Homo sapiens: one gene and its partner. The gene in region 1 interacts genetically with each later gene. Each region holds a gene or a part of one and is shown in the gene's direction. Other genes may lie near its edges. The genes, in order: EIPR1 and RAB10.

The links.
Region 2: changes in EIPR1 (region 1) and RAB10 are lethal when combined (synthetic lethality), as found in Homo sapiens cells (one study listed by BioGRID).

The regions. Positions count from the first base shown.
Region 1 is NC_000002.12:3,192,506-3,196,326, reverse strand, and holds part of EIPR1 (EARP and GARP complex-interacting protein 1), read left to right. Parts: intron 1-2,160; coding exon 2,161-2,328; intron 2,329-3,745; coding exon 3,746-3,821. UniProt on the Homo sapiens protein: Acts as a component of endosomal retrieval machinery that is involved in protein transport from early endosomes to either recycling endosomes or the trans-Golgi network.
Region 2 is NC_000002.12:26,110,404-26,114,224, forward strand, and holds part of RAB10 (ras-related protein Rab-10), read left to right. Parts: intron 1-3,821. UniProt on the Homo sapiens protein: The small GTPases Rab are key regulators of intracellular membrane trafficking, from the formation of transport vesicles to their fusion with membranes.

The DNA.
Region 1 (3,821 bases):
TGTGGCAACGGAAGCCCACACAAGCTTTTTTAAGATACAGTTTATCCCCTCAGCACACCATAATTTATCACCGAGCTGAAAAGACGGATGTCATGCAATAACTCGTGTTGATTCCAGGGTGGGGGCACAACTTTAGGTTTAGTTCCAAGGCCCCTCTGAAAACTCAGGGGCTAATAAAGAATCACTTGCCACTTCCTCCTTTGTGCACGTCCGTGCAGAGGGCTTGTTTGGTTTCCTAATCAGAAGCTGGAAACCACAGACTCAGCCCGTGATGAACGTCCTGCTGAAATCCATTTCTCCATGTCCTGTGGTCATCGTGTCCTTTGTCTGCATGGTTTTTTGAAGGATGTGAAGAATTTCAGTATCTGAAAACAAGAAACTCAAAGACTGACGTTACAGACCAAACAAATAAGCAAACAAAAAGATGCCCGTGGCTTTGATGGGTGACATCTGGCAGTGGCCTCATTTTGCCCGTGTTGTGTCTGTGGTGAGGACGTGCCAGCGCAGCACAGAGGGTCCTGGCGCCTTCTCATTGACTGTCATTTCTCCTTTTGCAAGCAGCTTTGGTTTGCATGGAGCCAGGATGCCTTTGGTGCTTTTTTAGGTGGTATGATGCTTTTGTGTGACAGTTACTGGTGATGGAGCATGCAGTAACCTTTAGTTAATACATCGTGCACGTGCGACTGTCCATCTAGTTCCCCGGGAATTTGCCAAGTTTTAAATTTTCTACCTTTGCCTGTTTCCCTTGAAAGATTTAAAAGTTTAGGTATTATATTTTAGGGAAGAAATATTAAGATATTGCAAAGGTGCAGGATATAAAAACCAGAAGATTTAAAAGTGGTTTAGGGCCGGGAGTTCTAATGTGAGAGAAAAAGATGAAAGGAATTGAGTTCCTCTACTTTGGAGAGCAGAGAACAATGATGGTCTTCAGATAAAGGAAGCAAATTACAAGGCACAGAAGTTTCCCATTGCTCATCAGCCCCATTGAGGCCTGCGGTGAGGAAGGTAAATGATGCAGGAGTGATTTCAGTCCCGCCCACGGCAGTGCTGGGGAGGCCGTGCAGGTAGGAGCTGCTGGGCAGCGCCAGGCCATGGGTTCTTTGCTCTCCTGGGCGCAGCCTTTTGTTCCAAGCCACTGTCCAGCCTCACTGGATGACCTGCCCTCTGGGATTCATGACATCAGGGCCATAGGCAGGATATTATGACTTCAGACCCTGCGAGGAGCAGCCAAGGACCATAGGATCCAGGGCAAAGTGAGATGTGTGAGTGCGTGTGTGCGTGTCTGCCCTCTCATGCATAGATGTGTGCATGTGTGTGTACATACATGTGTGGGCGTGCACACAGATGCACGCGTGAGTGTGAGAACGCACGCACTGTGAACAGCCGTGTGACTCATTTCAAACAGTCCCCTTCTCCCACCCTGGAGCGAGTGGGTTGCACTGGCCACCAGCAGTGTTGGACCTGGAGCTGGTGTGGACAGTGGAATGGCAAGCCCAGCTGGCATGGTCCTTCCTGCTTTCATGGCCTTCCCCACTGCTCCTCCCTTTCTCTCTCTCTCTCTGTATATATCTATAGATAGATAGATAGCCGGCCCCTTCCTGCTTCCATGGCCTTCCCCACTGCCCCCCCCTTTCTCTCTCTCTCTGTATATATATAGTTCTATATATAGATAGATATTTTGTGTTGTATGTGTATGTATGTATATATATATAAAATTTCCCAACACTATATTCTACCTCAACTCCCTGTCTTTTTCTTTTCCTTCTTCACTGTGTCCTTCCAGAAATGTGTCAGGCATCCTGTCCAAATGTCTGGCTCAGTGTCCCCATGGCTGTTGCAGCCCCTCTGGCATGCTTTCATTCTCAAGATGATACCAAGTCACATTTTTGACGGCTACAAAGCAAAAATTCCTTCCACGGCTCGCCCAGAGGGTCACAGATACGCTTCTGGAGAGATGAGCGTGGTGCGACCACACAGGGTTGCTGGGATGGAGGAGGTGGCGCCAGCCTCTTCCTGCAGGGCAGGAACGCCGAGGGGATGAGAGCACCCTGGGCCGGGGGATTAGACAGGGTCCCGGGAAACCAGTGTGTGCCCGCAGCACGCAGTGGCTTTTCCTAATCCATTTACTATTTTCCTTTGCTGTTCTTCCTTCTCCCTCAGCCAGATCTACTGCATAGAGAATGCCCACGGACAGCTGGTGCGGGACCTTGACTTTAATCCCAATAAGCAGTACTACTTGGCCAGCTGCGGAGACGACTGTAAGGTGAAGTTCTGGGACACCCGAAATGTCACCGAACCCGTGAAGACCCTGGAGGAGCACTCCCACTGGTAGGGCCGCTCCTGGCTGCTTCAGGGAGGAGGGGATTACGCAATTGATTTTGCTAATTACTTTACCATTGGGAAAGACACAAACCAGCTTAGTTTGTGCTGCTGTGAATCATTCAATCAACCCAGTTTTATTTTTCCTAAAGAAACACTAATTCCAAATCTGAATGTTTGTGATTTATAAACGTAGGAAAAGAAGAAAAACATTAAATTCTGTTTTCTCTTGAAACAGTGCTGGTTCAAGTATACAAAAATAAATGTGCACAGATGTTCACGCAACATTATTTGTAATGCCAGAAACCTGGAAACCACCCAAATGTCCATCACTAGGGGACTGGTTAAGTAAATTAGGTGACATCCGTGCAGTGGAGATGATGCAGCTGTCGGGAGAATGTGGAGCATCTCTATGTGGCTGTGGGAAGATCTCTGAGGTCACTCATTCTCCCTAACATATTATTTGAATGTTTTTCATGTGCTGGGTACTTTTTGCTAAGTAAGTAAAAAGATCAAGTTGTACAATGGCATGTATAGCATGAATCCATTTTTATGCAAATAAAACGTGTGTGCACACACGGGTGTACACAAGTGTGAGTGACACAGGTATGTGGAGGAAATGTCTGAAAGAGTAAGAGCCAAAATCTCATCAGGAATCCTCCCCAAGTCAAAGAGGGGCATTCACTCCCTATGGCCTGCATCTCTGTATTGTTTGAATTACTTATCTGAAGCTGTATGTTAAAACCCCGGATTGGTAGTGCACACTTCTGATAAATTCAGTGACTTGCTGGAATTTCCTGTGGTCTGAGTGGCTGGGCCTCCCTGTGCCCCTGGCCATGCTGGGTGCACCTCCTAGCGTCAAGGGCCTGGCACTGTCTGCCACCTGGGCCCTGGAGCTTGTTTTGGCCTCAGCATGACGGGAGGCAGAAGCTCCCAGGCTCTAGGACCCACGCCAGCAAGAAAGCTGATCCCAGTAGCCAAAACCAAGGACAGCCCTTGTGCCCCGGGAGGCCGCCATGCCCTGGTCTCAGGACCCACAGTCACTGCCAACTGGGAAGATGCCGTGAGACTTGTTTGATATTACAGGATATCGCTAATCCACATGTTGCTTCTGGGACAGTATTTTTTTTTTTTTTTCGAATTTTAGAAAGCTTGTCTGAAATGTTGCGTGATAAGCCTTCTCCTCCTGTAGGTTTCAGCCAACATTTAGTCTTCCCTGTCTGTCTCTTGGGACTTAAGAGAAACCTGCAGTAAACCCAACCTCAGCGGAAAACTGCCTTATGTCAGGCCCTGTGACTGGGGGCCGATTGCCTGGCAGTGCCTAACGTGAGCCCCAGCCTAGTGGGGCCCTCAGAGCCGGTGTGATCCATTGTTGGTGTTGCCTGCGGGTGACAGTTCATTTCAGCAGCTGCCTTGCCCTTTGCAGGGTGTGGAACGTCCGCTACAACCACTCTCATGACCAGCTGGTCCTCACGGGCAGCAGTGACAGCAGAGTCATCCTT
Region 2 (3,821 bases), about 23 Mb from region 1:
ATCTAGAGCCCCATTCAAGACAATTAGTAAATTACTCCAAAACTCTGTATAGCCATCTTACAAGATGACCCCAAATAGAAGCTACCAGTGATTTTACAATGATTTTCTGGAAATGAATTTTTTCTTAATAAATTTTTATTGAATGAATGAAATGTCCGGTAGTAATTTTTTAAAACTTTATTTTTCATGTTATAGAAATATAATATTGCTTCTAGGCATTTTGAAATATATGGAATACTAATATAGTAAAAACCTAACTAAGAAAATAGTTCCATTGCATGTGAAAATGTTGTTTTTTTTTCTGTATTTTGGGTTTTTTTGAGATAGAGTCTCACTTCATCACCCAGGCTGGAGTGCAGTGGCACAATCTTGGCTCACTGCAATCTCTGCTTTCTGGGTTCAAGTGATTCTAGTGTCTTAGTGTCTTGAGTAGCTGGAATTACAGGTGTGCACCACCACACCCGGCTAATTTTTGTATTTGTAGTAGAGATGGGGTCTCGCCATGTTGGCCAGGCTGGTCTTGAACTTCTGGCCTCAAGTGATCTGCCCACCTTGGCCTCCTGAAGTGCTAGGATTGCAGGCATGAGCCACTGCACCCAGCCTGATGTTACTTTTTATAAGTTAAAATTATGTATCAAAGCATGTCTGTTTCTTTGCTACAGCATAGGTGGCTTCTTGTTAAGAGTTGTTTTTCATGCCTTATTGCTACCTTCTAGGCTTTGAGTTTTGTTAACAGTAACTCTTTGAAGCAAATTTTGGCCAGATACACAAAGACCAAGTCTTAAACCAATATTAGACCCAAGATAATACCCCTAATGGTAGCAATCCTAAGGGCTCATTACCACTGTTTTGTTGCTACAATAAATCTTTGGGAGAAGCTTATTATTTTTTAATAATTATTTAAAGATACACAGATCTTGGCTGGGCGCGGTGGCTCACGCCTGTAATCCCAGCACTCTGGGAGGCCGAGGTGGGCGGATCACCTGAGGTCAGGAGTTCGAGACCAGCCTGACCAACATGGAGAAACCCCGTCTCTACTAAAAATACAAACTTAGCTGGGTGGGGTGGCACATGCCTGTAATCCCAGCTACTTGGGAGGCTGAGGCAGGAGAATCGCTTGAACCCAGGGGGTGGAGGTTGCAGTGAGCTGAGATCACGCACCATTGTACTCCAGCCTGGGCAACAAGAGCGAAACTCCATCTCAAAAAAAAAAAAAAATACAAATCTTAAAACAAAAAAGCTTTATTTTGATTTCCTTATTCTTTATTTTATTGTTCAGGTAAGTAGTCTGTAGTAAGAGCAGTTTAGAGATTCTGCAGTGTGTTTCCAACAACCACCAATTCTCTGATTCTACCACATGAACTGGTGTCCTGCTATTCAATGCTATTCTGACACTGACTACCCTGAATTAGTATCAGACTCCACAAGTTTAAGGACTCATTCCTACAAAATTGCCCTCACTTGAGATGCCATTTGCAAGTCCTGGGTCCCCAGGCTTACCCACATTTCTGCCTTCTGTCCAAGCTGGCTATAGATTTTGGGGATGCCAACAATGCCACTCCATGTGATCATTTGCTAGGGTGAGTCATAGAACTTAGGAAAATGCTATACTTGGGATTACAGTTTCATTATAAAGTATACAATTCAGGAACAGCCAAATGGAAGAGAGGCATATGTGGGGAGTAGCGGCAGGGCTCCAGAGCTTCCATCCCCTCTCTGGATACGCCACCTCTCCCAGCACCTTGATGTGTTCACCGAATTGGAATATTCCTTACCCTCAGTTTTTCAGATTTTTGAATTGAAGTTCCATCACTTAGGCATAATTGATTAAATCATTGACTTCTGGTGATTGAGTGTAATGTCTGTCTCCCTTCCCCTCCTAGGAGGTCAGGAAGTGGGACTGAAATTTCCAATCCTCTTATCACTTGGTTGGTTCCTCTGGAGACCAGCCCCCATTCTGAAGCTAGATAGGAGCCTTGTCATCAGTCACCTCATTAGCATAAACTCATTATAGTCAAAAGAATCTTGTTATGAATAACAAAAGACAACCCTGTCACTCAGGAAATTGGGAGGTCAGTGACAGGAACTGGGAACAAAGACCTAATATATGTTTTTATTATACCGCAGACTTAAACATCTGACATGGTAGACTGGATGGTTTGTTTCCCAAGATAAACTGAGAAACATACAACCCAGGTATCAAAAAGGAAAATTGTGGGTGTGGTGGTGTACACCTGTGGTCCCAGTTACTTGGGAGGCTGAGGCAGAAAGATTGCTTGAGCCCAAGAATTCAAGGCTGCAGTGAGCTATTATCATACCACTGTGCTTCAGCCTGGGTGACAGAGTGAGACTCTGTCTCTGAAAAAGAAAAGAAGTTATTTAAAAAGAAAATCTTGGCCAGGCGCAGTGGCTCATGCCTGTAATCCCAGCACTTTGGGAGGCTGAGGCAGGCGGATCACCTGAGGTCAGGAGTTTGAAACCAGTCTGGTCGACATGGTGAAACCCTGTCTCTATGAAAAACACAAAAAATTAGCCGGGCATGATGGTGGGCACCTGTAGTCTCAGCTACTCAGGAGGCCAAGGCAGGAGAATCACTTGAACCCAGGAGGCGGAGGAGGTTGCAGTGAGCCAAGATTGCACCACTGCACTCCATCCTGGGCAGCAGAGTGCAACTCCGTCTCAAAAAGAAAGAAAGAGGAAATCTTGTTTCTCTGGTGTATTAAAGGATTATATAACATGATCAAGAGGAACTTACCCAGGAATGCAAGGGTCAGAACCTGTCAATGTAATACACCATATTAATAGACGACAAAACCATACAGTTATCTCAGTTCACACAGAAAAAACATTTGACAAAATCCAACATTCTTTTATGATTAAAACAGTCAGCCAAACGCAGTGGCTCACACCCGTAAATCCCAGCACTTTGGGAGGCCGAGGCAAGTGGATCACCTGAGGTCAGGAGTTCGAGACCAGCCTGGCCAACATGGTGAAACCTCGTCTCTACTAAAAATACAAAAATCAGCCAGGTGTGATGGCAAACACCTGTAACCCCAGCTACTCGGGAGGCTGAGGCAGGAGAATCGCTTGAGCCCAGGAGGTGGAGGTTGCAGTAAGCCAAGATCGTGCCATTGTGCTCCAGCCTGGGCGACAGAGCAAGACTCTGTCTCAAAAAAAAGTCAACAAACTAGGAATAGCAAAGAACTTCCTTAATCCTGTAAGTGACATCTATAAAAATACCACAGCTATTATTGTACCTGTCCCCTAAGATCAAGAGCATGGCAAGAATATCTACTCTGGCCACTTCTGTTCAACATTATGCTGAGTTCCAGCCAGAGCTAAAAAAAAAAAAAAAAAGAAAGAAAGAAAAAAAGCCATCCAGAGTGAAACAACTATTTATAAATGGTAGAATATTTTATATAGAAAATCCTTAAGAACCCACAAACATATACCCAGAAAACTCTTAGAACTAATAAACAAGTTCAGCAAGGTTACAAGAAATGAGATCAACATATAAAAATCAGCTTTATTTCTGTACACTAGCAATAACCTAAAAATTACATTGAGAATAAATTTCCATTTGTAATAATATCAAAAGGCAAAAAATACTTAGGAGTAAATTTAACCAAAAGAGTGTAAGACTTGAACACAGAAAACCACAAAATATTGTTGAAAGAAATTAAAGATCTAAATAATTAGATAGCCATTATTTGTGAATTGGAAGACAATATTAAGATGGCATTACTACCCAAAGTGATCTACAGATTTAGTGCAATCCCTATCAAAATCCCAATTGCTTTTTTAAAAATTCCCCCCCGTAG